Regions from separate parts of the Homo sapiens genome. Here all the other regions are linked to region 1. Evidence: fine-mapped expression QTL. A gene starts in region 1. Each other region holds a variant in brackets. All regions are shown on one strand. Distances are between the middles of the regions. Region 1 holds the start of ANKRD22 (ankyrin repeat domain 22). Region 2 overlaps STAMBPL1 (STAM binding protein like 1). Region 3 overlaps STAMBPL1 (STAM binding protein like 1). Region 4 holds the start of LIPM (lipase family member M). Region 5 overlaps LIPM (lipase family member M).

Region 1 (5,137 bases):
AATGTACCTCATTGGACCTGGATTTAGTTTACTCATTCTTTCCACTAAGGGAACAGGGCACCATCCTGGTTAGAACAGTGGCAGAACACCAGAGTGGTTAAGACCAATTCTCTTATGGAGCATGACATATCTGTTGAAATAACAAGTAGTAGAAAAATTTAGTAGTTCAGCAGTGATGTAAGAAGAATCTCTTTGAATGAGTAAACACAGGACTCATCCTAGCCACCAATCTCCAGCCAATAAGCACTTTTCAACTGTGTAACTATGAGCCAGTGACTACCTTTTCCTCAGTTTCTTCATTTGTAAAATAAGGATACTAAAAGTGACTCTTACAAGATTGCTGTATTAAATGAGTTAATACATATATAAAGTGCTTAAAATAGGGCCTAATCTATAAGAAGCCCTAAATACATGTTTGTTGCTATTGTAAATATTATGAACAAATACCTTTGATAAGGGTTTAAATGAATCAGCCTTGTTTAAAAGTCCATCTTACGCAGTTGGAGTTACTTATTCAAAATTAGGGCCTCTCACTGAGCTCTAAGCTTATCCTCTAGTGCAGATTTCAGGACCAGCTCTCTGGGATCCTCCCTCATTCTCTCCTTCTTTCTTAAAAATATATATTGCATAACTATTAGCACTGCAAAGCTCTAAGGAAAAATGATAACCCTATGTCCCCAATCTAGAGGAGCTTCCCGCACTCAAATTGGGGGAAGTTTTTTTTTTTTTTTTGAATAGATTCTTCCAGGCAACATAGGACCAGGGATCCAGCAGGCTTTTTTCTTGTCCTTAATGAGTAGCTCACAATCTTTATCCTTAGGAAACACAGAGCAAATGATATATTACAAATGAGTAGGCTATGTTTAAATATTTAAGAGATTACTATTTAATTTTAAAGAGTCTCAAACTCTTTAAAACTATAGATGAAAGGTCCTACTTCCAACTTTCTACATCAGAATACCTGAGGATGAGACTAGGCTTTTTTTTTTCCTTTTTCCAAATCACATATAATTCCCACATGCAATCTGAAAAAGCAACCAAAATGCAGAATCTTAGGTCCCACCCAGGTCTACAAACTAAGAATCTGCATTTAAACAAGACCTTCAGAAGATCTGTATAGACATTAAAAACGGGAAAGCACTGGCCTGTGGCAGTCTTTCTTTCTCAGGATGGTGGTAAACAGATCACCCCTATGTCAGAACCACCTGGGATGCTCCTTTTAAAAAGTATACTTTTGTATCCTACCATAGACTGAGTGAAACAGACTCTCTGGGTTGGAGTCCCTTGAAACTGCATTTCAAACAAACTTCTCTCCCTGACACTTGGGCAGTCTAAAGTTTGAGAGTTACCAGAGTAGCATTTAAAAGCACTATATGTTTTGTCATTTTCATGTATATGATCCCTTCATGAGGCTAAAATCACTGAGCAAGACATACCTAGAGTTATAAACCAATCAAACACTGCATTTGCACACACGGAGAGATATATACACACATGGCATTAGAAATAACTGCAAATAAACTGTCTTTAATACTAGATCAAAACTATCCAAGAAGGTTCCCCTGAGCATCTGCAATGAAATGCAGATTAACCAGTTAATTGTGTCAGAGGAGAGAGAGAGTAAATTATGTATAATGACATCATTACACCTCTTGTACTCTTGTCTAAACATTCCTTGCTTGTACTTTCTTGAAACATCATTAAAAATCCATTTGATTCTAATAAGTTACTTCCAATACAAGTAAAAGTACCTCAGTATTTATCAGATGTGAAAAGAAAATAATCAAATCATCAAAATATGTTATTATTCCTCTTCTTCATAGTGATAGTCTTTACTAATATTTACTAAAGGTGAATCTCCCTTCAAATACCAAGCTGAAAGGCATTACTCTGGTCATGTGGTTCCATAAAAGAGGCAGTCAATCTTTTGGATATTTAGAAAATCCAATTGAGTACAATTTTCTCTTTTTCTCTGAGTGTTTGTCATGAGAAAAGCACAACTCAAACTCGATTTTGTCCAAATTATCCTTGCAAACATCCAGATACTATGAAATGTGTATTATATTCATCTCAACTTAGATCTAGCTAATATTTTAGAATTACAAAATACTTTGTCTTAAACTATTAAGAATATCAACAAGAATAACACATAGGACTTTATTTTTTCTGACTTAATGCTCCCCCAGGGAGTTGAACAGACAAAACAGAAATATATTAACAGGGATAGAAAATTGCATCTGAAAAGCATGAGTAACTTTTAACATCTTTGGAACTCTGCTTTCAGAAAGGTGATGTACCTCAGAGTATAGGATTCCCATGCTGGTCCTTCACAGGCTTACTTCACCTCTACAGCTCCTTGAATCTTCTGGAGGTATTTCTGATGAATATCAAAATCCTTCCTGGCTGAGAGGAAAGTCCCTAGAAGTCCAAGCTGGTGGCAAGCTCCAGGAGTGCTTTTCTAGCAAACACCTGTCAGTGCTTTTCCAGCAGCTCAGGCAGCAGCACACCTTCCAGAGAGCCCAGCCCAATGAAACAAAGGCACTGGTGTCATGTGTAACGACCCAAGCCTGTATCATCTAATGTTACAACCCTGAGGAGCCGGTTTCTGAGTCATATTTGCTCTGCCAGTGGTAACATGCAGGAAAGAAGGAAGCAAAGTTAAGGGAGGAAGAAAAGTTCTTACATTGGCAGGAAGGACTCACGGTTCAAACCAAGATACTGTATTTCAGACATTTCGTAATCAAAATCTGGTTTTCAGTGGCCATTGAGAAAGGCTAGAGACCAACAAACTTACTTGTGAGAGCCACACGTGTCTGGCAAAGAACTTGAAAAATAATCTTCAAAATTCTCAGCCTAACAAGTAACGCTTTTCCAGCTATTTATGCAGTTTTGTAAACTAATAAATTTACTAACATAATAAATCTTAAGTTGTTTTAAATATTCCAATACTATTCACACATTTAGCCAAATTACTTTATAATATTCAATTTAAAAATCATAAGTCTAAAATCAAATACTCTGTTATGCATTTTAAATTGCATCATCAATTTATTTATCAAACATGCTAGTATGCCCAATCTCTTAAATATTGTAAACATTTTATATGCTATATATGATATCATTCACACATTTTCCTTGAACTGAATACAATCACATCAAACTTTCCCAGAATTGAAACACTCGACCGTCCACACACCCATTATAACCATGGGACCAGCCCAAATGGGCCGTACTTTGTTGATAACAAATGTCAATTTACTCTGTAGATATAACAGAGCCAAAAACTGTAAGTCATTTAGCCCAGGCATGCACAATAAAAATGTTTTTGCCTCTAACAGAACCTAGAACAAATGATCCCTCCCCTGGGAACCAAGAAGACAAGGACATGACGGGAACCTAAATGCAGGACCTCTTTCAGAAGCTAGGGGCTCATTGGCCCAAAAGATCCAGGGCTGAAATCTGCCTCAACATACCTTACCTTTAGTGGTCAAATTTGAAGCCCTTCAATCAGTCCCTGCCAAACCAACATTCCTAAATCCTTTCCCTCACCCTCTAAGCCATACATTTTCTCAGATTCCAAACTGGGGAGGCAGATTTGAGCCCACCTCCTGTCTCCTTGCTGACCTGTCTTGCAATAAAGTTTTTCTTTCCTCAAAACCCAGTGTCCAGATATTGGCTTCTGTGAGCAGGGGGCAGCAAGCCTATTTGCTCAATAATATCATGGAAGAAATAGTTCAACCATCTCAAACCAATTGATGTGATTTTCCCAATCAGTTGAGGCTCCTTAGTGGCCAGAAACTAGTGACCAGGATACTAGGCCTGTGCTTATAAATATTCAGGGAAATTCTTCTTACTCCACTGGTGGATATACTGAGCTATTTTTATAATTATTTCAAAGATTTTATGTTTCACTATGCAGTTGACATCGAGGCCAGCCTCTCTGGAGTTTAAGAATTAGCTAATTCTTCCGTTGGAGGAGAGGGAAGTCTGCAATACCCACTAAAATTGCAGCTGACTTCCTCTTTGGCTTGGTTTGATTTTGTATTTCTGTAGACTCTTAAGACATTTAAGTGTCTTCCCATTGACTTAGAAAAACATTAATGGTATATCCATTGGGTACTTCACTCTGTTATGCAATATTTTGTAACCTCTGGTAGCCTCTTTTGTAACCTCTTTCAACTAATTTGTGTGGACAGAACTCTTCACTGTCATTGCTTCTCTCCTAAGGTTGCTGCTAGCTTTCTTCTTCAAGCTCTTTCCTCCCTGACTGAGCTCTAAATGTTTCTTTAACTTTCAATCAGGATCAAAACTCATTTTATTAGATTCTGCATCTCTTGACAACATCTGGTTCTAAAGGAACAGTACTCATTATAATTGCAAATGATGTAGGGTTAGCTCAAAAAACAAACCAATGAAAAAAGCAGTTGACTCATTGTTATTTGTAAAACACTTGGATTTAACTCTAGGCCATTGGGTCTCAACCAGGGGTTATCTCGCCCCCAGATAGACTGCAGATTTAGCAACGAAAAAGATAAGATGTTCAGTTAAATTTGAATTTCAGATAAATTTCTGAAATGTCATATGGGACATACATACACTAAAAAATTATGTTGCTTAATGGAGAACGTCGTTTTATTGGAAACTAAAGACATTTGGCAATGTCTGGAGACATTTTTGGTGGTCACAACTAGGAGTGGGAGCATGGTACTCTAATGTGGGGAGCAGAGGCCAGGGAAGCTGCTAATCATCCTACAGTGCACAGGACAGCCTCTCAGAGCAAAGAATTACCCAGCTCAGAAGAGTGCTAATGTAGAGAAACTCTAGTCTAAGCCAAAAGGAGAATTAAAGGTGAAGGAAGAGGACTTCGTAAACTATAGTGTCAAATTGGAATACGGAGGCATATTGTCAGAATGAAGTTGGATAAACAGATATATTTTTAAGTGTTTAGGGTTCTTCCTCTGGCAATTTTGAGCCTATAATTACAAAGACAGGTAAAGAAAAGAAGTTCCAGAAAACAGCTTTCACAGGTAAATGTCTTCTGTCAAGAAATAACACTGTCAAGAAGACAAATGTCTTCTGTCAAGAAATAAACCTAGTGTTTAATCTGAATTAAACACTAGGGACTTAAAATTAGTGG
Region 2 (5,137 bases), 40 kb after region 1:
CATAAAGTGATACATACTTATAACAAATTGTACAGCAATGAATAAATAAAAAGTGAAAGTCCCTCATGATCCCACCCTTGAGAGAACAGCTGAGAAAAATTCAGTAAATGTTGTTCCAGACTTGTTTCTTAAAAAATTCCAGTATACTTAATGAATACATTTGTATTCATATTACAAGGATGGAGCTATATTTTATATGTTATTCCACAGCTAGCTGTTTTCACTTAATGCTCTAACTTGGATGACATCCTGGTTCAGTACAAATAGATGTAAGTCCTTTCTAACAGTTTCATATGCTATAGAGATTCTTTATTTTAAGTATTCCTCTTTTGATGGCTATTTATTTTAAAACCATGCTGCAGTGTGTGTGTATATATTAAATGGTCAAGGAAATCTATGGGGAGATCTTAAAATTGGAATTGCTTAGTCAACAGGAATGCATATTATTTTAAAAACTGACATTTTTTTCAATCCTCATCCATATTGAGTTGGACCAATCATATACATTTTACCAATCAAATACATTAAATACCTGGCTTAAATTCAGTTTCTTAATTACTAGTGAATTTAGATGTTTATTTCTTGTGACTTAACTGTTTATATTTCTCTTAATTACTTGCTCATGTCACTTGCCCATTTTTACTCTTTTTCTTACTGTTATGCAAATGTTTCCTATAGTTTACAGATAATAAATATTATAGCTGTCAGTGGTGCAAACTTTTTTATTCTTTTACTTGTTGAAAAGATTTTTAAAAGTACTATTCAAGCATTTACAGAATATTTTATTTTAAAATAATTTTAGACTTTCAAAAGATTGTGGAAACAGTACACAAAGTTTTTATACAACCTTTACCCTGATTCCTCAAATATTAACACCTTGCAAAACCACAGTAGTCATCAAAATCAGTAAATTAACACTGACACAATACTATTGTCTAATCTACAGATCTTATTCAAATTTCACCGAAGTCCTTCTGGGCAAGGATCCTTTCTGGGATCATACATTGAATTCATTTGTTATGCCTCCTTAGTCTCTTTTAATCTGCAATAGTTCCTAAGTCTTTCTGTCTTTCATGATCTTGACACTTTTTAAGAGCATTGGCTGATTGTTTCCTAGAAAATCCCTTGATTTGGGTTTATTTGATGTTTCTTCATGAGTATGTAATCAAGAGAGTGACCTAGTCTGATGATGGTCAAAAATAACTTGCCTGAAAAAGAGATGCTTAAGCTAACACCAGAAAGATGGGTAGAAAGTGGAAGTATGAACTGAGGATGGGGTGCCTTTGCATTGACTTTGCATAGTGCATCTAAGCAACTGAAAGAAGCCAGTGGAGGAGGTGGTGTGAAAGAAGGCTCTAAGGAGGCAGTCTGGTCAGACCCAGCTTTGTGGGACTTATTAAGGTTATAGGATATTAACAGCAATAGAACATCATTCAAGGGCTTTAAGCAAAGGAATGGCAATATCTGAATCAGGTTTTTAAAAGATCACTACAGGTAGATTCTTCACCAGGTAGAATTAATCAAAGGGGAGCAAGATAGAAACAAATACAACAACTAGGAGGCAGTTCTAGCAATGCAGGCAGAGAAAAGGGTGGGGTGTACATTAAGGAGCCTCCCCGCAAAGACGGTGAAAACCTGCAGTTTTGAGAGATGTTTTGGAGGGTGAATCTGAATCTGCACATGCAGGTGATAGATTGGATGTGGGGTTAAGGGAAGGGGTAGGTGCAGGATTGCTAATATCAGCGTTTGCCAGATATTTGTGTAAGTGATTGGATGTTGGTACCATCCATGGAGATGAAAGAGACAATTCTTCACCTCTGATAGTGAAGTCAGAAGCATCACCATCTCCAATTCTTTTAGATGCCAACATTTACAATATATTTGCTTATTTATGCTTCTGTATCTCATTATAGCCACTTAGCTTCCAAGTTCTATGGTTTTTCCTCAGAATCTTTCCCAATAACTGTTTGTCCTTCTCCATTTCTTTCACTGCTCTTCAGTTTGGACAAGGGTTTCCTCATTCCAGTGTTGCATACTTGCTTCCTCTCTGGGCT[A/G]CCAATTCCTCTATTCTCTGTAACTTTATCCATCGCTTCCAGAGTATGTGTGTTTAATAAATATGTACTAAGTGCCTCGTTTGGGCAGATCACTTTGTTGGGAAGAGTTGGGAATTAAGTAAGTTAAGTATATTTCATGGAACTGGAGTCAATTCCGAGTTATAATTGAGGCAGAAGGAAAAAGGCCATTCTGCCTAGCGGTCAAGAAAGGACCATATTCTTCTTTCACTCCTTACAAAAAATAAATTCCACACAGGTCAAATGTATTTATCCAAAAATGACTAACCACAGAAGTACCAGAAGAAAAGATCAGTAGACATATTTTAAAATTGTTTATGATGAGTAAGTTTGAAGACCTTTTAAAGAATGTTGAGAAACCTAGATACCATAAAGAAAATAGGTCCACTTGAAAGCTTAAATTTTAAAAATTCCATGTAAAAATTAAACAGCTTTCAAGCAAGAATGTCAGCTGAACTAATAATTATAGAAGGAAAAATAGAAATAGAAAAATGGCCACTTTCAAACACCACAATAATTGTCTCAGGGAAAAAAATCTTCAAATGCTAAAATTAGTGGGCAATGGTATATTTGCATAGTTTCCCTACAAGATACTTTTCAATTATAAAGAGAAAAATAGTATCGTGGAGAAACCTGACCGATATAACTTAAACAAATATCACGATTAACATCATTAATAATTGAACAAATCAATAACATATGTCTCCTGATACATCATGGAGGATACACCATCACTTATAAGGTATTTTTTTGCCAAAAAAATGCATAACTCTCATTGTTTTCTGTATTTCATCTTTCTCACAGTCACCACAATCTTTATTAGATAATTGTGTAGATAATTGTTTATTATTTTTACACCTCTCTGCCCCATTCCTGGTCCTTAGCAGAATGTAAGGTCCATAAAAGCACAAAGTAGGGGCTTTATAAGTAACATTGAATAAATGAATGAATAAATAAATTTATTTGGAGCTATCAGTTTTTACAGGAAAGATCCATTTAGCCTTGGATTGTATTGAATGAAAAATAACAGTTGGGTATCCTGGTGGAAATGGATGGAGGACATTTGAAGGTACAATGCTAAAGCTCAAATTAAGCTGAAGCCATGAAAAAAAAAGGTGTCTTATAGAATAAAGATATATCAAGAAAAAAAGATGAAATATTAATATTTGAGATGCAGGGTGAGGGAGGAGAAAGGAAACACCTCCACTTCAGAGAGGCCAAGGCAGGAGTTGATTTTAAATAGGGAAAGTTCAGCTGATCAGGGCCAGGTGCTTAGTGGGGGTTTGTAACTGTTTAATGCAGTGAGTCTCAAGTTTTAATGTGCATAAAAACATCCTGGGCTGGAGATCCCTGGGGCACCCTTCCCAGAAATTTTGACTCAGTGGGGCCTAGAAATCTGTGGGGTTTGTGTATGTGTCTGTGTGTGTGCGTGTGCGTGTGTGTGTGTGTGTGTGTGTGTGGCCAGCACACCCCTCCTCCACCAAGTCATTGTAATGCAGGCAAGTTATCCAGGAACCACTCCCAGAGGGAACATGGCATCCAAATCAGGGGGATGTCAGCTCTAGGGTAGGAAGGTAGGAAGGGGATGAATGGTGAGCAAATTTGGACAGCAGATGACCACTTGCTAACAACTTTGCCAGAATAAGGAGCTCTTCAAGAAAACTCTTTAAAATGGATTGCCAGGGAAAGTTAAGAAGGAAACTTTTTTCTGTTTCTGCCTACTGCATTGAAGAGATTGTCCAGTGCAAAACCAAATGTATGAATACAGCCTCTGCTGTGACATGTTAAACAGTTAAGATTCTTGTGGTTGGAGAACACTGGAGAAGCAGTGGATGACAAGTACTTCAGGATGGCCCTCTTTTGCTTTTGAATAATAGTGCTGGACTCAGTCCATTTTGTAGAACTACTGTCCTTAAGAAAGTTATGAAAATTAAATAAAATTGATTAATAATGCCCAAGGACTAACTACATTTCTGAGCTTTCAGGCAACTGGCAGGCAGGAAAATGATGCTATTTCAAACATTTATTTGTGACTCATTATACTTCATTGAACTAAGTATCTTTTGGATAGTATTTTCTTAAAAGCAAAATTCCAATAAAAAAGGAAGTATATTAAAAGGTACATTAAAGTTTAGTGCCTTATGGGTAGCTTATCTTTAGAAATGCATTATTTCCAGGAATGTTTAGTATTTTAACAGGAGGAGAGCAAATTAGCAAGTTCATATGAATTTGTGGTGAAAAAATATCTGTGTACAAATATGAATCTCTCTCCAGCACCTCAAATTCATTTGCCAAGTGTTTTATAATGCATATTAATTGAATCATCACATTTAGAAAAGAATCTAAAATTAGCACATTGATGAGCATATGAAATGCCTTTGATATAGCACAAAAATGTAGAATTTATATTAAAAACCAGCAAATATTTTGAATTGAACTGTGTCTAGATAGAATAATTATGGATTTGAATTTCTTAACTACATATACCATGTAGTCAGTCCACAAACACTGAATCATTCTGCCGATGAAAAAAGTGAAGGGAGCTGGGCACGGTGGCTCACACCTGTAATCCCAGTACTTTGGGAGGCCGAGGCGGGCGGATCACCTGAGGTCAGGAGTTCGAGACCAGCCTGGCCAACATAGTGAAACCCCGTCTCTACTAAAAATACAAAATTAGCCAGGCATGGTAGTGCATGCCTGTAATCCCAGCTACTTAGGAAGCTGAAAGAGGAGAATCGCTTGAACCTAGGAAGCGGAGGTTGCAGTGAGCTGAGATTGCACCATTGCACTCCAGCCTGGGCAACAAGAGTGAAATTTCCTCTCCAACAAAAAAATGTGAAGGGAATGAATGTCCTTTTATTTCTTTGGCAGGGAGGAGATAATGAATCAGATAGTTGTAATGCTGAACTGAAATCTTCATTTCCACAGTAAATTTTTTCATTCTTGTCCAAGGCCCAAGGATGTGACCTTCTCTTGGATTTTCCTGATTATTATGAGAGGCAAGTCGTTAGTGTTGCAGTGTGACTGTGAGTATAAGCCCTGAACTCCTGTGCACTTAGAGTCCC
Region 3 (5,000 bases), 54 kb after region 1:
ATAGATTGATGAAGACTTTAGGTTATTTTCCAGCTTATCTTTGAAATCAGTTTTAAATTTGGGAAGGTCCATTCAGAAGAGGAAAAATCAATCTAATTTTCATTTTCAGGGAAAAAAAACTAATTATAATCTCTTGTTGCTTCCTTCTCTCACTTCCGTCTGTCTTTTATTTGATATACCTATTAATCATCACTTATGTGGCAGGGAATATGCTACATTCTAGGGAACAGAGATAAATGGAAAATGATCCCTTTTAAAACCCCAAGGAGTTCATAAGGGATCAGATACACTTGTACAGAAATAATTATAACTCAGTGTGGACTAAGTAGTAGTAAAATATGAATACATTACTTTTATACATATGAGAGGCTGGAACCCCCTTTAGAGAACATTCTGATTTTCATAGATTTTTTTTCTAGTCATTTTTCTGATGTCATTGAAGCAATTATCTGTGTCAAATGACAATATTTTCTTTTGGTGCTGTTGAGTTCTATAGCCGAGTGTGGTTAGGGAAAAGTGGATGGATTGCTGTAGCTTTTGAGACATCTCAATTGAAAAGACTATATACTGAAGCCCGAGGCTCAAAGTTCAGAAACTCCAATTTCTGTCTCTGATGTGGGGAAGCCACGTAATAAAATGTACAAGGGACATGGTATGGTTCTTACTTAATGAAGCCTTGAGAAACAAGTTTATGGGTCTCTGGTTACATATTAAACCTTTAGGACCAAGAATCATTTCAGATCTCTGAGGTTCTATTGGCTATAAAATTACCACCAAAGTAGACCAGATGGCATTGGAAGAACTCCAGATATCTAATTCACTATACCCTGTCCCTGAAGGTTGGCTCGGTAATTCATGGCCAGACTAAAAGTATGCTTACCTTGACTTCTTTTATAGCTTTCTACAGACTTGAATGAAGTGCTCCACCCACACAGTAGTCAGACTTGCAACCTACCCTTAACTGACCAAGGCGGCCTTGAGAAGCTAAATTTGCTCTAGACTAACTCTGTTCTGGGAGCATCCAGCAATGGTAGAAGGGGTTGGTCTAAAGCCTTGCTTCTCAAACTGTACAGGCATAAGTACCTCTGGAAAGATGGATTAAAACATTGATTCTCCTGCCTAACTCCAGAGATCCTGACTATAGGTCTGAGGTGAGACCTGTTAGGAATTTGCATTTGTAAGAAACTCCCAGTTGATGCTGATGCTGCCAGTACATGGACCATGCTTTGAAACATGCTGGTCTAAAGCAGGGGTCAGCAAACTATGGTGTAAGGGCCAAACCACCCACTTGCTTTTATAAATAAACATTTAGGGGACACAGCCAGGGTCATTTTTATCCATATTGTTTATGGTGACTTTCATGCTGAGAGCTGAATTCAAGTTGCAATGGAAACCATATGGCTAGCAGAGCCTAAGATACTTGCTATGTGGCACTTAACAGAGAAAATTTCCTTTCTGAAGCACCGACTTTTTATTGAATAATTATTCTGAATTGCATATGTTCTATGCTTTACCAAAAGTGTATAGATGCTGTTTTTATTAATAAAATTCAAATTGCTATCACTGACATTTCTTAGTAACATATCATTATTTTCTTAGTCAAGGACTAATTTAACAGTGTACTTACTATTATATGGAGGTCTGAGATTCTTTTTATGTTAAAAAAAATGGGAGGGGCATTCTTATGCTTGAAAAGGCTTCTCCAGGACTTACTTGTGGGTTGTTTTTTTTTTAACTCAATGAAGATGCAGAGAAGCCCTGAAAATTTCTTACTAAACAACACTTATTCTGGAATAGAATTGAATCTTTATAGTAACTTGAATCCAAGTTACCTCCTTGGAGACCCTTCAGAGTAGACTGACATGAACCCTACAATGGCAGGAATTCATCTTATGACCTGCTTCAGATGATCCCAGATAGAAGCATGCACAGGGATATGAGGAGCAATGATATTTTACCTAAAATGACCTGAAACATTTGCATACCCTGAAACCTAAAGTGAGATCCCACTCCAATAAAACTGTATGTTTACCTTGGAGGTTTGTCTTTTTGTTGTATAAACCATGTATTTTTGTTGTATAAAGCATGTTTAAGCAAAAATGCTTTACTTTGATTATATCATTAACTTATGAAAAGATTTCCTTAGGTAATGGTGTTAGGTTCCTCATAAAGAACATATGTCCATAATATTAGTCATATCCTTTTCTTACTATAATCAACAGTTAATCAGAGATTTAAATTTTGCTTTGCAGAAAAAGTTAGCTGCTATGCCTGACCATACAGATGTTTCCCTAAGCCCAGAAGAGCGAGTCCGTGCCCTAAGCAAGCTTGGTTGTAATATCACCATCAGTGAAGACATCACTCCACGACGTTACTTTAGGTCTGGAGTAGAGATGGAGAGGATGGCGTCTGTGTATTTGGAAGAAGGAAATTTGGAAAATGCCTTTGTTCTTTATAATAAATTTATAACGTAAGTGTTTTAAAGGCCTCTGAAGTGAGAAAATTGGAAAAATATTTACATAGTTATTTTGATGTGGCAGTTTGGGTATCAGTAATGTTTTCATATTCAGACCAATTGCACAGTCTCTAGGAGCATTAAATGTTCAAGTTTTTAAATTACCAACTAATGTACTCACAGGCATCCCAACACCATCTCTGAGGCTTAGGGTCAGGGAGGGCAGGAGGCTCAGGGTTATCAGATTTCCTTTCCAAGGCCAGCATAGTAATCTATTTAATACATGTTTCACTCTTCTTAAATATAATTTATTTTTTCATG[C/T]GATTTTCCCCGACAGAAATGGAAGCTTTATGAGAGCAGGAACTACAGTGCAGCTCCATTTATAGCACCTAGAACATGCCATCAACATTTAAAAAATTTGATTTGGTGGGTTGAGTCTAGGGGACAAGTTGGGAGACACAGGAAAGATCTGATTCAGGTTCAGGGATAGGTTCAGGAAACTCATTCAAGTTTCATATAGCACTTATTATTTCTTTTTAAAAAACATTTTATTTGGCTATTAAGAACACTATGTACAAAAGAGCTGTCAAAATGTTGAGTAAAAGTGGCTACATCAAAACAGCCATGTCAGAGTATCATGTTTCCTATTAGACAGATATTTGTTAGTGACATATCCTAGTTTAAGAGTTAACAGAAATGGGACTTCGTCTTTCCTTACTATAAATCTGGTAACTTACTAGTTGAAAGGATGTCCTGTCATCAATAATTATATCTTCTAAGATGAACCTTCTTTTTTTTAATTGAAAGTCACATGCCGATTACTTTTGCTAGCTTATTATTTATTAATTTTATTTAAGTTGACAAATAAAAATTATATGTATTTGTGGTATGCAACATGTTTTGATACATATATGCTTATATTGTGGAATGACCAAGTCAAGACAATTAACATATTTATTACCTCACAGACCTTTTATTGAGACAGGGTCTCCCTGTTGCACAGGCTGAGTGCAGTGGCACAATCATAGCTCACTGCAGCCTCGACCTCCCTGGCTCAAGTGATCCTCCCACCTCAGCCTCCCGAGTAGCTGGGACTACAGGCATGTGTCACCATGCTCAGCTAATTTTTTATTTTTGTAGAGATGGGATCTTACTATGTTGCCCAGGCTGATCTCCAACTCCTGGATGCAAGTGATCCTCCTGCTTTGACCTCCCAAAGTCCTGGGATTATAGGCATGAGCTACTGTGCCAGACCCAAGCTGCATAATTATGCAATACATTGTTATTAAGTATAATCATCATATACACTGGACCTCCTGAACTTATTCCTCCTGTCTAACTGAAATTTTGTATCCTTTGACCAACATCTCACCCCCATCCTCAACTGCTGGAACTCTGATAGCTACCAGACTACTCTCTGCCCCCCTGTGAATTCAACTATTTTAGATTCCTTCTACATTGTAAGTGAGATCATGCAGTATTTGTGTTTCTGTGCCTGGCTTATTTCACATATAATATCACTAGCTTAGTCAGGGGCTTAGCCTGAGAACATTTAAGAAGTTGAAAGATACAATATTTTAAAAATTGCCTTCCATGATTCTACCGAGGGCAAAATTAAAGGCAGTTTACATGGTATGCAAAAATTGAGATCTGCATTTTATTCAAGTTACTGAACTTGAAAATTTAGAGAATGGTTGGCAACCTTCACCCTACCTGGGAAAATCACTTGTTTTTAGAAAGTTAAGTAATAAATATGAAATTAGAAGTTATTCTCCACCATTGATAGCCAAACTTTTCCAATAATTTTTGTTTCTGAATAAGTTACCAATTAATAATATTTCTTTTTCACCTTCTGCTCTGATCTTGCATATGTTCCTATGGAATTGTGAGCCTGGTGAAAAGGAAAAGGCCCCTATATCTCAGAATTACTGTGTAATCAAAATATTTGAATTCTCTTGTATTATTAGTTGTATGATAATTTGTAATTCACTTATTCTTCCTGGGCCTTAGTTCCTCATCTACAAATGAAAGATTTATGGGAGAAAATCTCTGAGGTCCCCTCTGCTCTAAATGTCTTTGAATTTATTCTATTTATAAAGGCTTAGATAGCTAACAACTTTTAAAGCTTCTTTAAGCCTTAATTTTCTCATTTAAAATGGGAATTATGCTAACATTTCTGTCTAACCTATAACCTTGTGATCAGATGAAATTAAATGATGAGTATATGTGTGTATGATTTGATTTACAGAATCAGTAAGTATAAGGCATATTGTTTGATCAGAAATAGCATTTACAGCTCATTATGATTTATCAAGGAAGGGTTATTCATTCATTTTGCAAATATTTATTGAGCACTTATTATGAGCTGGATGCTATTCTTCAGGCTGAGGATACATCAGTGCATAAAAAAGAGAATTCCCTGCCTTTGTGGTAGCAGTTTCTTCACTTTACCTGGAAGCGATGCACCTGGTTTGCTGTAGGAATTTCCTTTCACTGCTGCTGTCTCTTGTTCCTCAAACGGTGACGAAAAATAATGAATTCCTAA
Region 4 (5,137 bases), 50 kb before region 1:
TAGTAGAGACAGGGTTTCACCATGTTGGCCAGGCTGGTCTCAAACTCCTGACCTCATGATCCACCTGCCTCAGCCTCCCAAAGTGCTGGGATTACAGGTGTGAGCCACCACGCCCGGCCCCCTCCCATCTCTTTTATCATGTTTCTGATGCTCTCCATGGGCTGGGGATTGCTAAGGTGGTAAGGGTGTTGTAAAATTCTGCAGTGGGGAAGAACTGCACTTATTTAATATTTGCTCAAAATGTCGCTCTTTGAGCTGACTTGGGAAGTGACTTTGCCTGCTTCCAAAATGACAGTTATGACCTTATAAAGTTCCCCAGGAATTTGAGAGCCAAATTTAATTATATTTTCTCTGCAATGTACTCAGTACCCAAGGCTGCAGCTGCAGAAAGCTAAAAAATAAAAGGAATAAAATAAAAAGGAATGGGTGGGGGATTGAACCAATCAGTTTATTGCCATAAACTCTCTCCTAAAAAAGTCTCTACAGTATTCACAAGCATATTAATCTAATGCGGGAGTTGATCTTACCTGAACATATTACAGCAAAGTAATATGGTATCTGACAGATGGTATTTGACAGATGGTATCTGTCAAACTCATAATGACATCATTGGGAATTATTCTGAATTTTAAATCCAGAAGATAACTTTTTAAAAAGACAGTTCACAGAGATTGATGTAATTGCTTCCTGTTAGTAGGTTAGGCTTCATCTTTGATGGAGAAGAGGACATCGAAGTGTTATATATTTTCCCATGTAGTCATAATGCTAAACAGCAAATTAAAATATCTGAATCTCAGTTCTGGCCTTGCCACAGTCTAGCTAGGCAATGTGGGGCAAGTCATTTAATGTGTCTTCACATTTCTGAAAATGAAAGCTGAATGATATCTTTTTTTCTGGCTATATAACATTTACAAATCCTAAAATGTCAGTGATGGGAGCCCATATTCTTTTCTGAAATCTCATCTTGCCTACCTTGAGGGAGAACTCATGGGGTGCTGAAGACACAGGGCTCTGCAGAGTGTTGGATAAGTGTTTTCTCTGCTCTTCTAATTAGGTCAAATGGCTCCTCTAGCTGGCATCAGATTAGCTGTGTTAGTGACATTCACACTGGTCCAGATAAGGATGCAGACTTACCTCTTCACACCCATGCAACCAGCCCAAAGTGGAGGAGGCTGAGTCATGTGGGAAGATATGTTCTGACAGACTTATCTTTCTGGTTTCAGCATCTGGCTCCTTCACCCACCACATTCCAAAAGTCTGCATATTGGTGTGGCTGCTGTTAGCTCAACCCTGAAGAATTGATGTAATAGAGAAATATTTCACTTTAAGTAATATTTTTTTAACTTTTAACACATTCTTTACTTAAAACGACAAATAAATCAACCCTCCTGACCTGCTCAATCATTAGTATGCTAAGGGATTGTTCACATTTGCCTCACATTCAGTTGAACTGAGACATTTAGTTCATGAAAATAACTAGGCTGCAACCCATTATTTTAAACAATAGCTTTGTAGATTCTGGATATTATCCCTTAAACAACCCCATCAAAAAGTGGGCGAAGGATATGAACAGACACTTCTCAAAAGAAGACACTTATGCAGCCAACAGACACATGAAAAAATGCTCATCATCACTGGCCATCAGAGAAATGCAAATCAAAACCACAATGAGATATCATCTCACACCAGTTAGAATGGGGATCATTAAAAAGTCAGGAAACAACAGGTGCTGGAGAGGATGTGGAGAAATAGGAACACTTACACTGTTGGTGGGACTGTAAACTAGTTCAACCATTGTGGAAGACAGTGTGGCGATTCCTCAGGGATCTAGAACTAGAAATACCATTTGACCCAGCCATCCCATTACTGGGTATATACCCAAAGGAATATAAATCGTGCTGCTATAAAGACACATGCACATGTATGTTTATTGCAGCACTGTTCACAATAGCAAAGACTTGGAACCAACTCAAGTGTCCAACAATGATAGACTGGATTAAGAAAATGTGGCACCTATACACCATGGAATACTATGCAGCCATAAAAAAGGAAGCATTCATGTCCTTTGTAGGGACATGGATGAAGCTGGAAACCATCATTCTCAGCAGACTATCACAAGGACAAAAAGCCAAACACTGCATGTTCTCACTCATAGGTGGGAATTGAACAATGAGAACACTTGGACACAGGAAGGGGAATATCACACACCGGGGTCTGTCGTGGGGTGGGGGAAGTGGGGAGGGATAGCATTAGGAGATATACCTAATGTAAATGACAAGTTAATGGGTGCAGCACACCAACATGGCACTTATATACTTACATAACAAACCTGCACGTTGTGCACATGTACCCTAGAACTTAAAATATAATAAATATATATAAAAAACTAAAATACACAATAGCTGATGATTTATTTACTAGATAATCCATCTAGTCATATCCCAGTGATTAACTAGTGATTACAACTTAAAATAAAAATTTTGTGTATATCTATTTAATTGAACTAGACGAAATGGGCTAAACATGGAAGATTCATTTTCTTCTAATCAATGTTCTCACCCATCCCTAAAAGTAGAAAATGTCCAT[A/T]AAATTTTAGATATTTTAAATAAAAGCACTTATCACAACACTTATCTTTAACCAAAAAACAGTGATCATTGAAGACCCAGAATATGACTATAGAAACTTTCAGTGCTTTCTGTAGACTCCATCTTTTGCTATCTATCAAAGAAAGATAAAATCTAGGAGTGGAAGGAAAGAGGTTCCCTACACTCCTTATTACCTGGTGATAAAGTACAGGGGTTTTAATAGGCTGTATCAAATGCACAAAATTCCAGGTCACATCAAAGAAAGTTCTACACACCTGGAAGTTGAAGGATTAGGGATTACAAGTTGTGTGAGGGAGGAATGGGAGGAGTCAGATAGTATTGGGACATCCTAGGCAATGTTTCCAGCCTACTTTGTGTTCTTTCCCTACCAACTAAGCTTGCCTAATTTGCTTCAGAATTGGAAGAGGGAATTGCAGCAGGAAAATATGTGAAGAGTTTTTAAACCCACAAATTCTTCTTACTTTAGAATTAGTTGTTACATTGGCAGGAAAAAATAAATGCAGATGTTGGACCATGTTGGAAACCTTGTCAAGACAGTGGATTGTCTCACACAGAATGGAAATGTGGCTTCTGATTCTGGTGGCGTATATGTTCCAGAGAAATGTGAATTCAGTACATATGCCAACTAAAGCTGTGGACCCAGAAGCATTCATGAATATTGTAAGTTGGGATTTCTGGGAAATGAGGTACTTAACATGTTAACGTTTGTATCTGTGTATTATTTACATTATGTATTATATTTATACATGGTGGTGATTCATACTAGAAGAGCATAGTGATGAAGTAGCAAATTGTACTGGAAAGAATGCTAAACTGGATGTCAGTAGACCTGGGGTCTCCTCACACAAATTTAGTAAACTTGGGCAAATGACTTAATCTCTTTGAGCTTCAAACACAATTTAACTTTTCCTTGAACACTTTGGTTCATCCTATGAGTGGAGAAGTAATTAAGGCCTTTTAAGTTCACCCCAGTCCCTTGATTATTTCCATTTTGTCTGTACCTTTTATTCTTTTATTCTTTTTTTCCATATTGCAAAGGTGTCAGCCTTTGCTTCTTGCTATCAGGGCACACACTTCTAGTAGCATCTTATACCATTCTAATCTACTCTTTTTATCCTGTTTCTGGACTGGTACTTTGCTGAATAGCAATAAAAGGACCCCGAGTTAGTGCTACACAGAACCTCCTACAAGTAAAATGCATAAATGACAGTACATCTCTTTAGTTTTCCCAGGAGGTTTTTTTTTTTTTTTTTTTTGGTAGCTTTTCAAATTCTAAGCTGGGTTTTAGTAATGGTCACCCTATGGTAACACTTATCCCATAGCAGGGATTATGACACAAGCAGAGATACTATTCTATTTCAATTTCATTGCCCTGTGCAGTAGATAGGATCATTCACATATTTCAAATCTAGATACTGAGATTAAAGAGGTTAAACAAGTTGAACAAGGCCATACCAATGTAATAGCATAGCTACTATTTAAATTCAGGACTGCCTAAACACAAAGTCTATAATTATAAATACTACGCAATAAACCCTCCCAGGTGAGAAAGAGGAGAGGCTACCTCCAGATGAGTAAGACGATCATGTGCAATGTTCATGTTCCAGAGATTTATCTAACAAACTCTCAGAAAATGGAACTTTAACATGTATTTATACCGATTTAAGACCCTTTCTACAGAAGCTTCCTTATATGGGTTCAAAAACTGAGAGGAAATAGAAATATTCTGTATCTGCATGGTGCTGAATATCAGGTTTCTTTTGACTATTCAATGATTAGGTGGTTTGTCTAGGTAGTTAGCACATTGGTGTCAGTCCTCAGGAGTCATCCTTCTGGCCCTGAGACTGTCCCACTTGAATTCCTCTGGTTTGGAGGTGAGGGGAATCTCTGCAGTGGCAGACAGAGATGATCTTCCTGGGCCCCACCCACTGCGTGTACCCAGCACCTATACACTACTGGGGCTTCAGGAGTCTGTAGACTAAAGCCCATTGAATTGGGCTCTGCCTTTAAGCAGCTATGCCTGGAAAAAAACAAAGTAAAATAGAAAATTCGTACGATTGGTGTAAATTCAACAAAATAGAATAAAAGTAGTTGCAAGTTTGAACTGGTTCTGAGGTAGGAGAAGGGCAGGACTTACTTTCTGGTCCCAACAGGATACAGTGAATAAACAAGCACAAACCAGCAGGTGGTGAAAAAAAAACAGCAAGAACCAGCAGTGGCCTGGAAGGCATCCTTTAGTTGCCCCGGCTGCTCATTAGCATAAGACACTCCTACCAGAACCATGACAGTTTACAAATGTCATAGCAATGACCCACGAGTTAGTACCCCTTTCCATGGCAATGGCCCAGAAGTTACTGTCCCGTTTCTGGAGATTTCTGAATAACCTGCCCCTTAATTTGCATGAAATTAATAGTTATAAGTAGGCATAAATACAGCTGCCAATAGCCCATACACTGCTGACTCTGGGAGCACTGCCTATGAATTAGCTCTGCTTTTCAAGGAGCAGTACCATTCAGTAAAAGATTACTGTC
Region 5 (5,137 bases), 34 kb before region 1:
AGTAATGATATATTCTCAGTAACTCAGTTCTCTGCAAACTGTAAGGAAATAAGGGAAATGCTTCAGTATGGACTGAAACAAGGTTAACATAAGGGCATTGCTGATATTAAATCACAGATTATAGATGGAAGAGGTCTGAAAGCAGCTTTACTACAGTGAATTAAATTAAAAAGAGCAATTAGCACATGTTAGACAACAGAGACAACTGTCATGCATCATCCACCTCTACCCTGCACTGGGGTCCTGTAGGTTTGTAGTTTAAGTTCTTTGATGGAACATCAGGGACCTTCATTTTGGCTTAGGCTACCAGTTGGTATCACTGGGTGGGTTCCCTAGGAAGCATACTCTGAGATGGAGGTTAATGTGAACAATGATTTGGGTCCTGCTCTAGGGATAATACCTAGAGAAGGAAAAGAAACAGGACTAGGTAGGTGAAAAAGTCAAGTAGTGATGCAGTCTCAATAGGAGACTTAGTTGATCCTGCAGGGATTTTTGAAGATAGGATGACCCTTCAGAACCGTCTCAAGTTAGGAAGAGAGGGTTGGGTCTTTATACACCATATCAGTCAGTCATTTAATGTAGCCATACCAGTAACAGGGTAGCACTGGGCAATGTATCTGCCTACAATTGGTGCAATCCTCAAAGCAGACTGAGAGTGGAGGGCTGTTTGCCAGCAGCACTCCCAGCAGCTGGGGCAACATTTCCTTAATTCTGAATATTTTTTCTTCTTCTTTAAGATTAATAATTTGATTTATAGTAAGGATATGAAAAGTATATATTATGTATCAGGCTAATTTATTACCTATACCAAGCCTATGAGTGTTATTAATATCCCCACTTTGCAGATTAGTATACTAAGATTTAGTAGATTAAGTGACTCACTCAAATTCACCTAAAAATTAAACTGCAGAACTAGGATTTGAATACAGGCCCAATGCTAGAGCCCTCATCCTAAATATCACTAGTAAAATTTTTTTTAATTAGGGGCCAGATCTCTGATGAGAACCTATTCTCAGATGAAAAATACCGGTGTCTGGCAATACATTTAATGACATTTTATTTACGTGCATGTACATATTTTTGTTTCATAGATAATTGCTGATAACTTAATAATGTTACCATTTCTTAGTCTGACACCCTGGAGATTTGGTCTTGACAGGGTATACATCTTGTGAGTTTTTCTATGTCCCCCAGAATACTCATGGTTTGTTACAGAGCCGAGCAAGTGTATATGCTGCCCACACTCTTGCTGGAACATCTGTGCAAAATATTCTACACTGGAGCCAGGTAAGAATGTTGAATTTGCAGTCTTTGCTAAATGTCCTGTTATATTTTGTGTAGAATAGTCAAAGGACACCATTTAGATAAGCCAGGGATTATTTCACACTTATTCTAAGATGAAATGCAGTATCGTCGATGCTATTTTGATGGAGAATTTGATCTAGATCACTGAAACTTTTCAAGAAATGGGAAGAAAGGACAGAAGTAGCCTAAGAACTTCTTTAGATCTTAAAAGTATGAATTTAGATGATCCAAGTGAGACTTCTCTCTGTCTCTAGACACCTCAAAGATGTGGCTGGAGATAATTATGTTTCTACATCTTCTCTTCAGCTCCTCCAACAATACAGTCAAGTAGAAACAAAAATGCTAATGTGGGGTCTGTCAAAAGAGATATTCACAGGAGTCCTTCACACTGCAAACTTTACCTGCAATTACAGGAAACACACACCTCTGTGTGTCTATGTGGTGTGTGTGAAAGAGAGGGATGGGGGAAGGAGAGAGTTCTCTCTGTTGACAGGTAGGGAGAGACAGAGAGAGAGAGAGCAATTGTACCATCAAAACCAGAGAAGAATTATAAGTTCAATTAAATTTTGGTTGCTATCTTCCAGGATCACCACATTGCACAATTCCAGGGCACGATTCCCCATTGTAGCCCACACAGTTGTGGAGGATACCCACTCACATTAATTACAATGAAGATGCACTTCCTGGAGTTGCTAATGCAATGATCAAGAATTTATGTAGTCCCTCTTTCTTCTCAAAAGGCCTCATTCTTGTCTTACCATTTTCCTGAGACGCTTATCCCAACATTGAATGGAAGAGCAGCTCAACCATTGCTCTCTCCTTCCCTCATGAGTGCACACTGGGTAGCACATTTCCACCACCCCACCACGCTTATCCACTGAGACGTTGGAATTCCTTGTAAATTTTTGTCTCCTTTTAGGCAGTGAATTCTGGTGAACTCCGGGCATTTGACTGGGGGAGTGAGACCAAAAATCTGGAAAAATGCAATCAGGTAAGAAAATCAAATACCATCTGCTGAAAATATATACATTGGAAATGTATGACAGGGACGTTATAATGACAGTTTATTCTAGATATGGGAATAAAATATGAAAATTTAAGCAGAAAATAATGGTTCATGTTTGACTCCATTTGAAAATGGTTAAGTTCACAGCTGATCCAAGAAACCTCTCTGCTTTTACAATGGAGTAGGAGGCCTTTTTAGCTGAGGCTGTCTCCCTAAACAAGGTACTGGGCTTCTCAGGAGCAAGATGAAGTAGATTTAGTCAAGAGAAGAGTGTAGTCTATGGTGGATACTAGAAGGATTATTTTAGAATTAAAAAAAATGGGATGGTGGCAGTAAGTTTGTTTCATGGCACAGTAAAAGGAACATTAAATGGCAAGTGAGGATTGCTGTGTAAGTTTTGCCTCTGCACTATAAACTTCTGTAATAGGAGGGAGGCTGCTTTAATTTTTCAGGCTTCAATTTCTTTACCTTGAAAATAAAAATTTTGGGCTTAGAAAATCCATAGGCATTCTCCCTAGTTATACTTTAAATGAATCTGTAATTTGCAAGTTACATTTTTTAAAAATGTTATTACATTACCCAAGAAAATATGTAGCTAATGCTATGAACTAAAATTAGATATCAAAGTGTGGAGATTCAGAATTGCACAGGTATGCCCTTTAGAACATAAAATCTTCTGAAGATTTTTGGTAATCATGTGTATGAATGTAAATAAATATTTACCATAGAAACAATACTGGAAGGGGCAGATTAGACACAGCTTAGTCTTTCTTTGAGACCCTCACATCATAAATTAACATCCGCTGCCATATGTCTATCTAGATGTAAAATGCTAGGAAACTGGACAAACTGTGCAGTGCCCCTGGATAG[T/C]GAACTCTCAATCTCTGGTATCAGCTGCTTCTCTTGAAGTCTTTCTTCACTGTTTCCCAAAATATGTCTTTAGAGAAAGTATTTCTGTTCAAAGATGTTTTTTTAATTATATTTATTTACTTTTGAGACAGAATCTTGCTCTGTCACCCAGGCTGGAGTGCAGTGGCGCAGTCTCGGCTCACTGAAAACTCTGCCTCCTAGCTTTGAGCCATTCTCTTGCCTCAGCCTCCCGAGTAGCTGGGACTACAGGTGCACGCCACCATGCTCAGCTAATTTTTTTTTTGTACTTTTAGGGATGGGGTTTCACCATGTTGGTCAGGCTGGTCTCAAACTCCTGACCTCAAGTGATCCACCTACCTCAGCCTCCCAAAGTGCTGGGATTACAGGCGTGAGCCACTGTGCCCGGCCCTAAGATGGCTTTAATTTATCAACATTTAATGGACTGAGTTCTAGAGAAATTGATTCATGCAGAATAGGCACCAGAAAATGGGAGTGGAAGGGAAGAGTAAACAAACACACAAAAAAAATCATAGAATCACAGAAACTCAGAGCGAGATATGACATTCAGTTCAATCTTTTCACCTGTAAGATGACAAAAAAAATTACTAGCCCCATAGAATTTTTCAACCTTCCTTATCCAAATTAGGCCATAACTGAGCCACAAAGAGAAACCAGAGCATCTAGGATTGGAGCCAAGACTCCATGGTGGATTTCCTGAGTAAGAAATGGGCCTTACCACTTCTGAGGAAAGTTCTGGATGCTGATTAATCTCAAGGGCTCAGCCGGCTAGGCTAATTCTACTAACACTGCATAAATACGGAAAGTTCCCAGGTATTAGGAATACTAATTGGTATATTTGGTGGGGAAGGGTGAGGAATAAGGATTGGAGCAGGTATTTAACTTTTACTTCCCTTTAGCTCAAATTACCTGAGTGCCATAGGCCATGGTTCTGGCAAATGCAGTCAAGCCGGGTCTGCCTCAAAGGCTGCCTGGGATCACATAAAGACTGTGAAGATGCAGAGCCCTTCCCAGCAGATTCCTTGCTTTTCTCTGTGGAATATAATTCTTCTTTCATGAAATGTTTGTGAAATTATCTTTTAAAAGAACAGGGGCATTATTTTTAAAAACAATTTATTTACAAAATATTTAATAGGAAGAAAAAAGAAATACAAGGCATTACATGTTTTTATGTGTTTTGTCATTTGATCTAGCAAGTTATTACAGATATTATCCCCAGTCACAGAAGAAGAAACTGAGGTTCAATAATGTTAAGTAATTTTACCTTAAAGTAAGGGCGGGAACAGAAATTCTTAACAGAGTTGTGTGGCTCTAACACCCATGTACCCTTCACCACAACAGATGGCATGTTTATTATGTCTATTTGAAACATAAATTATGAGCCTGAAAGTCCAAATGTTACCTAGAGTTAAGAACTATTCCTTTTCTCTAGCCAACTCCTGTAAGGTACAGAGTCAGAGATATGACGGTCCCTACAGCAATGTGGACAGGAGGTCAGGACTGGCTTTCAAATCCAGAAGACGTGAAAATGCTGCTCTCTGAGGTGACCAACCTCATCTACCATAAGAATATTCCTGAATGGGCTCACGTGGATTTCATCTGGGGTTTGGATGCTCCTCACCGTATGTACAATGAAATCATCCATCTGATGCAGCAGGAGGAGACCAACCTTTCCCAGGGACGGTGTGAGGCCGTATTGTGAAGCATCTGACACTGACGATCTTAGGACAACCTCCTGAGGGATGGGGCTAGGACCCATGAAGGCAGAATTACGGAGAGCAGAGACCTAGTATACATTTTTCAGATTCCCTGCACTTGGCACTAAATCCGACACTTACATTTACATTTTTTTTCTGTAAATTAAAGTACTTATTAGGTAAATAGAGGTTTTGTATGCTATTATATATTCTACCATCTTGAAGGGTAGGTTTTACCTGA

The links.
Region 2: its variant is fine-mapped to the expression of ANKRD22 in whole blood (TOPMed, PIP above 0.99).
Region 3: its variant is fine-mapped to the expression of ANKRD22 in whole blood (TOPMed, PIP 0.91).
Region 4: its variant is fine-mapped to the expression of ANKRD22 in whole blood (TOPMed, PIP 0.98).
Region 5: its variant is fine-mapped to the expression of ANKRD22 in whole blood (TOPMed, PIP above 0.99).

Annotation. Positions count from the first base shown.
Region 1 is chr10:88,849,290-88,854,426 of GRCh38, forward strand. It overlaps ANKRD22 (ankyrin repeat domain 22), which reads right to left and starts at 2,555. Exons shown (of 6, transcript NM_144590.3): 1 at 2,298-2,555. The coding sequence starts at 2,318.
Region 2 is chr10:88,888,847-88,893,983 of GRCh38, forward strand. The region is part of intron 1 of STAMBPL1 (STAM binding protein like 1); the gene reads left to right. Among named protein-coding and RNA genes, the nearest start is that of STAMBPL1, 11 kb to the left of the region's middle. The variant A/G (reference allele first, on the strand shown) is at 2,055.
Region 3 is chr10:88,903,191-88,908,190 of GRCh38, forward strand. It overlaps STAMBPL1 (STAM binding protein like 1), which reads left to right. Exons shown (of 11, transcript NM_020799.4): 3 at 2,253-2,470. Among named protein-coding and RNA genes, the nearest start is that of STAMBPL1, 25 kb to the left of the region's middle. The variant C/T (reference allele first, on the strand shown) is at 2,777.
Region 4 is chr10:88,799,778-88,804,914 of GRCh38, forward strand. LIPM (lipase family member M) reads left to right here and starts at 2,953. Exons shown (of 9, transcript NM_001128215.1): 1 at 2,953-3,266. The coding sequence starts at 3,120. The variant A/T (reference allele first, on the strand shown) is at 2,587.
Region 5 is chr10:88,815,601-88,820,737 of GRCh38, forward strand. LIPM (lipase family member M) reads left to right here. Exons shown (of 9, transcript NM_001128215.1): 7 at 1,216-1,287; 8 at 2,225-2,296; 9 at 4,632-4,946. The coding sequence ends at 4,901. It overlaps ANKRD22 (ankyrin repeat domain 22), which reads right to left. Exons shown (of 6, transcript NM_144590.3): 6 at 4,296-5,137. Among named protein-coding and RNA genes, the nearest start is that of LIPM, 15 kb to the left of the region's middle. The variant T/C (reference allele first, on the strand shown) is at 3,182.